2 linked regions of the Homo sapiens genome follow. The protein of the gene in region 1 purifies or fractionates together with the protein of each later gene. This does not show direct contact. Each region holds a gene or a part of one and is shown in the gene's direction. Other genes may lie near its edges. The genes, in order: PIGU and RNF121.

The links.
Region 2: the proteins of PIGU (region 1) and RNF121 purify together in Homo sapiens (affinity purification with western blotting, with the first as the bait; one study listed by BioGRID). This does not show direct contact.

What each region holds. Positions count from the first base shown.
Region 1 is NC_000020.11:34,666,781-34,670,601, reverse strand, and holds part of PIGU (GPI-anchor transamidase component PIGU), read left to right. Parts: intron 1-3,821. UniProt on the Homo sapiens protein: Component of the glycosylphosphatidylinositol-anchor (GPI-anchor) transamidase (GPI-T) complex that catalyzes the formation of the linkage between a proprotein and a GPI-anchor and participates in GPI anchored protein biosynthesis.
Region 2 is NC_000011.10:71,987,891-71,991,711, forward strand, and holds part of RNF121 (E3 ubiquitin ligase RNF121), read left to right. Parts: intron 1-2,706; coding exon 2,707-2,827; intron 2,828-3,821. UniProt on the Homo sapiens protein: E3 ubiquitin ligase which accepts ubiquitin and transfers it to substrates thereby promoting their degradation by the endoplasmic reticulum-associated degradation (ERAD) pathway which is a pathway involved in ubiquitin-dependent degradation of misfolded endoplasmic reticulum proteins.

The sequences.
Region 1 (3,821 bases):
CACCACTGCACTCCAGCCTGGGCGACAGAACAAGACCTTGTCTCAAAAATAAAAGAATCAGGGTCAGGAAGAGCACTTCTGATACCACTACTTAAAAAAGCCTTTATGGCCAGGCGAGGTGGCTCACACCTGTAATCCCAGCACTTTGGGAGGCTAAGGTGGGAGGTGGGTAGATTGCTTGAGCTTGAGTTCGAGACCGGCCTAGGCAACATGGTGAAACCTTGTCTCTACTAAAAATACAAAAATTAGCTGGGTGTGGTGGCAGGAGCCTGTAGTCCCAGCTACTCAGGAGGCTGAGGCAGGAGAATCACTTGAACTCAGGAGGTGGAGGTTGCAGTGAGCTGAGATCATGCCACTGCACTCCAGCCTGGGCAATAGAGCAAGACTTTGTCTCAAAAAAAAAAAAAAAGCCGTTATTACAAAATTAAACAGAATTTGTAAGACACACATAACAATGTATTCTATGGTGAATTATTGTAAGGTGAACATTTTTGTAACTGTCATCCAAGTCAAGAATCAGAACTTTGCCACTCACTTCAGAAGCCCCCCTTCGTCACAATCCCCTCACTCTTTTCATAAGTAACTATTATCCTGACTTTTATATGTAATGACATCTTTGTATTTTTAAAAGTTTTATTACTCAAATGAACATCCCTAGTTCATTTGCCGTTAGGCTTAGTCTTGCCCCTAAGAAAAAAGTTTTTGTTTGTGTTTTCAATCTCTCTTAATTTTTAGGGTCCCAGGTTCCCTTTCTCTTCCATAGTGTTTATCTATTGAAGAATCCAGACAGATCTCCCATAGTTTGAATTTTCCTGATTATATATCATGATACAATTTAACATGTTCCTCTATCATCTCTATTTCCTGCAAATAGGCAGCTGGATCCAGAGACTAGATACCACTGTTTTTTGTTTTTTACTTTTTTTTTTTTTTTTCAGCCAGAGTCTCACTCTGTTGCCCAGGCTGGAGTGCAGTGGTGTGATCTTGGCCTACTGCAACCTCCACCTCCTGGGTTCAAGCAATTCTCTTGCCTCAGCCTCCTGAGTAGCTGGGATTACAGGTGTGTGCCACCACACCCAGCTAATTTTTGTATTTTTGGTAGAGATAGGGTTTCACCATGTTGGTCAGGCTGGTCTTGAATTCCTGACCTCAAGTGATCTACCTGCCTCTGCCTCCCAAAGTGCTGGGATTACAGGCATGAGTCACTGCACCAGCCTGTTTTTTAGCTTTTTACTTGAAATCATTTTAAACTTACAGAATACTTGCAAAAATATTGCAGAGAGATCTGTATACCCTTCACCCAGCTTCCCCCAATGTTAATATCCTACATAGTCATAGTACAGTGATCAAAACTAAGATGATAGCATTGGTACAATACTATTAACTAAACCATAGTTGTTAAGATTTTACCATTTTTGCTGGGCACAGTGGCTATGCCTATAATCTCAGCACTTTGGGAGGCTGAGGCGAGGGGATGCCTTGAGCTCTGGAATTTATGACCAGTCTGGGCAACATAGGGAGACTCCCTCTCTACATAAAATTAAAAAAGAGTTAGCTGGTTTGGTGGCGCACACCTGTGGTCCCAGCTACTTGGGAAGCTGAAGTGGGAGGATTGCTTGAGCCTGGGATGAGGAAGCTGCATTGAGCTATGATCATGCCACTGCACTGTATGTAGCCTGGCACCAGAGCAAGACCCTGTGTAAAAAAAAAAAAAAAAAAAAAAAAAAAAAAAAAGTTTTACCATTTTTTCACTAATTTTTTTTCTGTTCTATGATCTAATATTCCATATTGCATTTTTATTTTTATTTTATTTATTTATTTATTTATTTTTTTGAGTCAGAGTCTCGCTCTGTCACCCAGGCTGGAGTGCAGTGACACGATCTTGGTTCACTGCAAGCTCCGCCTTCCGGTTTCATGCCATTCTCCTGCCTCAGCCTCCCGAGTAGCTGGGACTACAGGTGCCCGCCACCTCGCCTGGCTAATTTCTTATATTTTTAGTAGAGATGGGATTTCACCATGTTAGCCAGGATGGTTTCGATCTCCTGACCTCATGATTTGCCCACTTCAGCCTCCAAAGTGCTGGGATTACGGGTGTGAGCCAGCACGCCCGCCCCCCCCTTTTTTTTTTTTTTTTTTTTTTGAGACGGAGTCTCGCTCTGTCACCCAGGCTGGAGTGCAGTGGCGAGATCTCGGCTCACTGCAACCTCCACCTCCCAGATTCAGGAGATTCTCCTGCCTTAGCCTCCCGAGTAGCTGGGATTATAGGTCCCTGCCACCATGCCAGCTAATCTTTGTATTTTTAGTGGATACGGGGTTTCACCATGCTGGCCAGGCTGGTATCGAATTCCTGACCTCAGGTGATCCACCTGCCTCGACCTCCCAAAATGCTGTGATTACAGGCATGAGCCACCGCGCCTGGCCACATATTGCGTTTAGTTGTTATATCTCCTTAGTCGTTTATCTGTGATAGTTCCTTAGCATTTCCTCATCTTTTATGACCTTGACACTTTGAAGAGCTCTGGTCAGGTATTTTGTAGAATGTCCCTCAATTTGGTTTTGTCTAATGTTTTCTTGTGGTTTGACGGAGGTAATGGATTTTGGGGAAGAATACCCCTGAGATGATATGGTCCTCTCAGTGCATTGGATCAGGGGTGCATATTGAAATGCCCTAATACTGGTGATGTCAGCCATAATCCCTTGGTTAATGTAGTGTCTGCCAGATTTCTCCACCATAAAGTGACTGTTTCCCTTTGTAATTAATCAGCATTTTAGGGGCTATTCTTTGGAGCTCTGCAAATATCCTGTTTTTAAATTTTTGCCTACTAATTTTTGCATTCATAGGTTAATCTTGCCTGTAACAGTCATTACTCAGGTGTTTCAATGGTGACTTTTCTGTTTCTCTCATTCATTTTTATTTAATAATTAAAATTCTTCTGTAAGGAAGAGTTGTCATTTCTTTGCATTTATTTAACTATTTATGTCAGTATAGATTTGGATATTTTATACTCTGGACTCTGTATACTATATTCATTCTGTTGTTTGGATTATTCTAGTTTTGGCCATTGGGACCGCTTTCATCTTGACCCCTTTGTCCTTTTGCCATACCTCTATCTCACTTTTTTTTTTTAAAAGCACTTTATTACATTCTAGAACTATAAGATGATCCAGGTTTATCTTGCTTAGTTCAGCCCTGGAATTGACCACTTCTTCAAGGGCCCTGGCTCCTTTTATTAGAGAATGTTATTTAGAAACAAAGTTCTGAATGCTAGGTGTGTTCATTGCAGCTGGAGTGATGCTGCTTCTTAGGCCCTCAGCTAGAAGTATAGGGACACTACTGCTTTTGAACAAGCTTTTGTCCTTATTGATACGGGAAACTGAAAAATAATATTTGTCTTATACAGGATGATATGCTTTTATTATCACCCATAGGAAAAGTATACCAAGGTAACTAAGAATTATTGGCCAGGCATAGTGGCTCATGCCTGTAATCTTAGCACTTTGGGAGGCCAGGGTGGGTAGATCGCTTGAGGCCGGGAGTTTGAGACCAGCCTGAGCAACATAGCAGGACCCCATCTCTACAAAAAATAAGAATTAGTCAGGTGCTGGCTGGGCGCGGTGGCTCACGCCTGTAATCCCAGCACTTTGGGAGGCCGAGGCGGGTGGATCACGAGGTCAGGAGATCGAGACCATCCTGGCTAATACGGTGAAACCTCGTCTCTACTAAAAATACAAAAAAAATTAGCCTGGCGTGGTGGCAGGCGCCTGGAGTCCCAGCTACTCGGGAGGCTGAGGCAGGAGAATGGCGTCAACCCGGGAGGTGG
Region 2 (3,821 bases), on another chromosome or scaffold:
AGCCACCTGGCCTAGGAGCCCCATTCCCCCAGGAACACATCCAGTTTCAAGAATGTCGCAGTCCAGATGTGTTGTACTAATCACAGGTCATAAGCAGTGTTGCCTGTAATATAGCTGACATTCGACAAGATTTCTAAGGAAACAGTTCTGGAAAGTTAACCTGTGGATGTTAAGTCCTGCTTCATTGTTGGGCACTTAGGTTGTTTTCAATTTAGTATTATCCCAGATAACGCTGCTCTGTTGCTTCCTAAGGGTGCATTCCTAGGGATGGAATTTTGGCTGTTGCTTCAGTTGTCATAAGCCTTCCAAAAGATCTTTATTAGCTTACAGGTCCTCCCACCCCGAATTGAGTCAGATGCCAAGAAATCCTGAGCTCAGAGACTGGAGCATGCAGTGAGTCAATGAGGCAGATGAGGGTGGAAATAATGCTTTCCTGGATGAAATACTGGTGGCTGTGGGCTGTGGATCAAGAGGAGCCCTAAGCCTACGACAGTGCACTGAAGCTAGAGATCTAGGATTCAAATTTAAGATAATGAATGGGATGATCACTGGCCTCTTCCCTGAGCCTAGTTATATTGTAGGCAGGAGTCTCTGAAAGGAGTTTATTTTAGGACAAGTAAAAATAAATCCTGGCCAGGTGTGGTGGCTCTCACTTGTAATCCCAGCTATTTGGAAGGCTGAGGCAGGAGGACTGCTTGAGGCCAGGAGTTCAAGACCAAGCTGGGCAACATAGTGAGACTCTCAACTCTTAAAAAAAAAAAAAAAGAAAGAAAGAAAGAAAATTAGCTGGGTGTAGCAGTGTGCACCTGTATCCCCAGCTACTCAGGAGGCTGAGGTGGGAGAATTGCTTGAGCCCAGAAGTTCAAGGCTGCAGTGAGCTATGATTGTGCCACTGCACTCCAGCTCAGGTGACAAAGGGAGACCCCCATCTCGAAAAAAATAAAAATAAATAAATCCTATTTTATATAGTGAGAGTGCACTCATGAAATTCTTTCTTCTAGGGGTAGTACAGGCTGAAGGAATAAACAGGCTCCTGAAGGGTTTAGAGGAATTCATCACTGTAGAGTCAAACACATCTTGTCAAAGAAAACAGATATCTCCTGGTAACTTTCTAACCTGTATGGTTAAAAAATAAAATAAAAATCAAGATTCTGCATTATGGGATTCTGCATTATGGTTTTTTGTTTGTTTGTTTGTTTGTTTGTTTGTTTTGAGATGGAGTCTTGCTTTGTCGCCTAGGCTAGAGTGCAGTGGCTCACTGCAACCTCCACCTCCCGAGTAGTGGGGTCAAATGATTCTCCTGCCTCAGCCTCCTGAATAGCTGGGACTACAGGCATGAGCCACCACACCCGGCTAATTTTTATATTTTTAGTAAGGATGGGGTTTCACCATGCTGGCGAGGCTGGTTTCGAACTCCTGACCTCAGGTGATCCACCTGCCTTGGCCTCCCATAAGTGTTAGGATTACAGGTGTGAGCCACCACGCCTGGCCTCTGCATTAAGTTTTAAAGATAATTCTTCTATAATTACAGTTTCTTTTTACTTGCCTGAACTCTACAATGAGGAAAACAGAATTGAGAATCTTGATCATTTTTGTGCTACTGATCAAATTAAGTGGTGTAAGATCAATGATTTCTAGTGAGTTAAATATTCAGGGTTCATAAGCAAATGCAGCTTTGTATATAAATATAATTTATAACTAAGCACATACATACGGTTCTTTGTACAAATATTTTAACAGATAATTTTCTATAACAAAGATTTATAGACTCAAGGTTGCAAATTATCGGTCCTTGGAATTATTAAAACAAACCTTCTGATGTTATAGGCAAGATCTTTATCCTTCTTGTTAAATAGACTTGGACCAAAATTTAACTTTGATGATATGATACAGATTATTTATATTTGTAGTTTATAATTTTATAGTAACTGCTATATATTAATAAATATTTACTAATTTTATCTTTTTTTCTTAAACCTGTGTTTGACAAGCTGTTTCTGTAAAGGTCCAAATAGTAAATATTTTAGGTCTTATGGGACAATAGGCCAAATCTAGGATATCATGTAGGTACTTATATAACAAGAGAAAAAACTCCTACCCTGTCCCACCCTCTTTGCCTGGGGAAGGGGCCAGGTCTCAGGTAGTGGGCATGCTTTGTGCTCTGTTGTCATAAGCTGAGACAATCTCAGAAAGAGGGGCATGTGGCCACCGGAGTAATTTTCAGTCTCTGCACCAGTGACACCCAGATTCTGGCATGCCCTTTCCTCCTTATGGATGGCTCAGCTGTTTCAACTTGAGTGGCTAGCTGGAAGAGAGACAGCTCAGCAAGGCAGCTCACTTAGTGTCCAGAAGTTACCAACAGTGGAGTCCCCACTATGTAGGTCCCGATGAGCATAGGTCCTGGGTAGCTGCAAGTCATTGTCACCAGTTAGGGGAGGCAAGGACTAAGAGCAGAGTGAGGAAAAGGGGTAGGAGGGGATACTGTAGCTTGGTCTTCACAGCCTACAGTGCTAGCTAGCCTCCTCAAGAGGTGTTCATGGGCCATATAAAAATAGACAGCAGACTGGATTTGGTCATAGTTTGCCCGCACTTGCTCTAGCCTTTGGGCCTTCTCGCTTTGGGCCCTGCCTTGTGTGTCCCAGAGTAGTAATCCATAGAAGATATGTCTCAGGGTGGGTCTTTCTAGCTCTAATGCTTCCCTTGCAGGATCAAACCAGAAGATGCCATGGACTTTGGCATCTCCCTTCTCTTCTATGGCCTCTACTATGGAGTTCTGGAACGGGACTTTGCAGAAATGTGTGCAGACTACATGGCATCTACCATAGGGGTAAGTTCATCCGGGTTCTTAAATACTGCTTCTTGACACCTCCAAATTGCTCAAGTTGATGTCACTTGTTTAATGGAAGAGAAAGGCACTAGGGTGAGATAAGCCACATAAAATCCTTCAAGATGTGCATATGCATGGACATTCCTTCCTTAAAGTTTGGAAAGCAACACAGCCATAAAAAAAGATAAAACCATGTGCGTTGCAGCAACATGCCAGCTGGAGGCCTTTATCATAAGCCAGTTAATGCAGGAACAGAAAACCAAATACTGCATGTTCTTACTTATAAGTGGGAACTAAACATTGGATATTCATGGACATAAAGATGGCAACAGTAGGCACTGGGGACTACAAGAGGAGGAGGGAGTGGGGACAACGGTTGAAAAACTATCTGTTAGGTAACTGTGCTCATTACATGGGCAACAGGATCATTCGCACCCCAGACCTCAGTATCACGCAGTATGCCCATGTAACAAACCTGCACATGTACCCTCTGAATCTAAAATAAAAGTTGAAATTATTAAAAAAAAAATTAGCCAGATCTCAGATGTACCCTATAATTTTTCTCTTTAGGGCCATTATAGGAAAGAGCCACTTTATCCAGCAGGAAGTTAACATTCATTCAGTAGATACTTTTTAATGCCTGCTATGTGTCTAGACACATAGCTATATGCCAGAATTACAAAAGTGTACAAAAATAAACATGGTTTTTGCCCAGATAAACTTTACTCTTAGGTGGGAGAGATGGCTATTACAGTAACAAACACAGATAAAAATAAAATTACAACTTTAATAAGCATTATGTAGGAAAGGTTCATGATGCTGTAAACACATGTAGTAGTGTCATTTGACCTAGTCTTGGGGCTCAAAGATGGCTTCCTTGAAGAAGTGACTATGGAGCTGACTTGAACAATGAATAGCAGTTAAGTGGATGAAGTGAGAACCAGGCAGAGGAAAGAGCATTCATAAGAGTCCTGTCACGGGAGAAAGTGTGGGT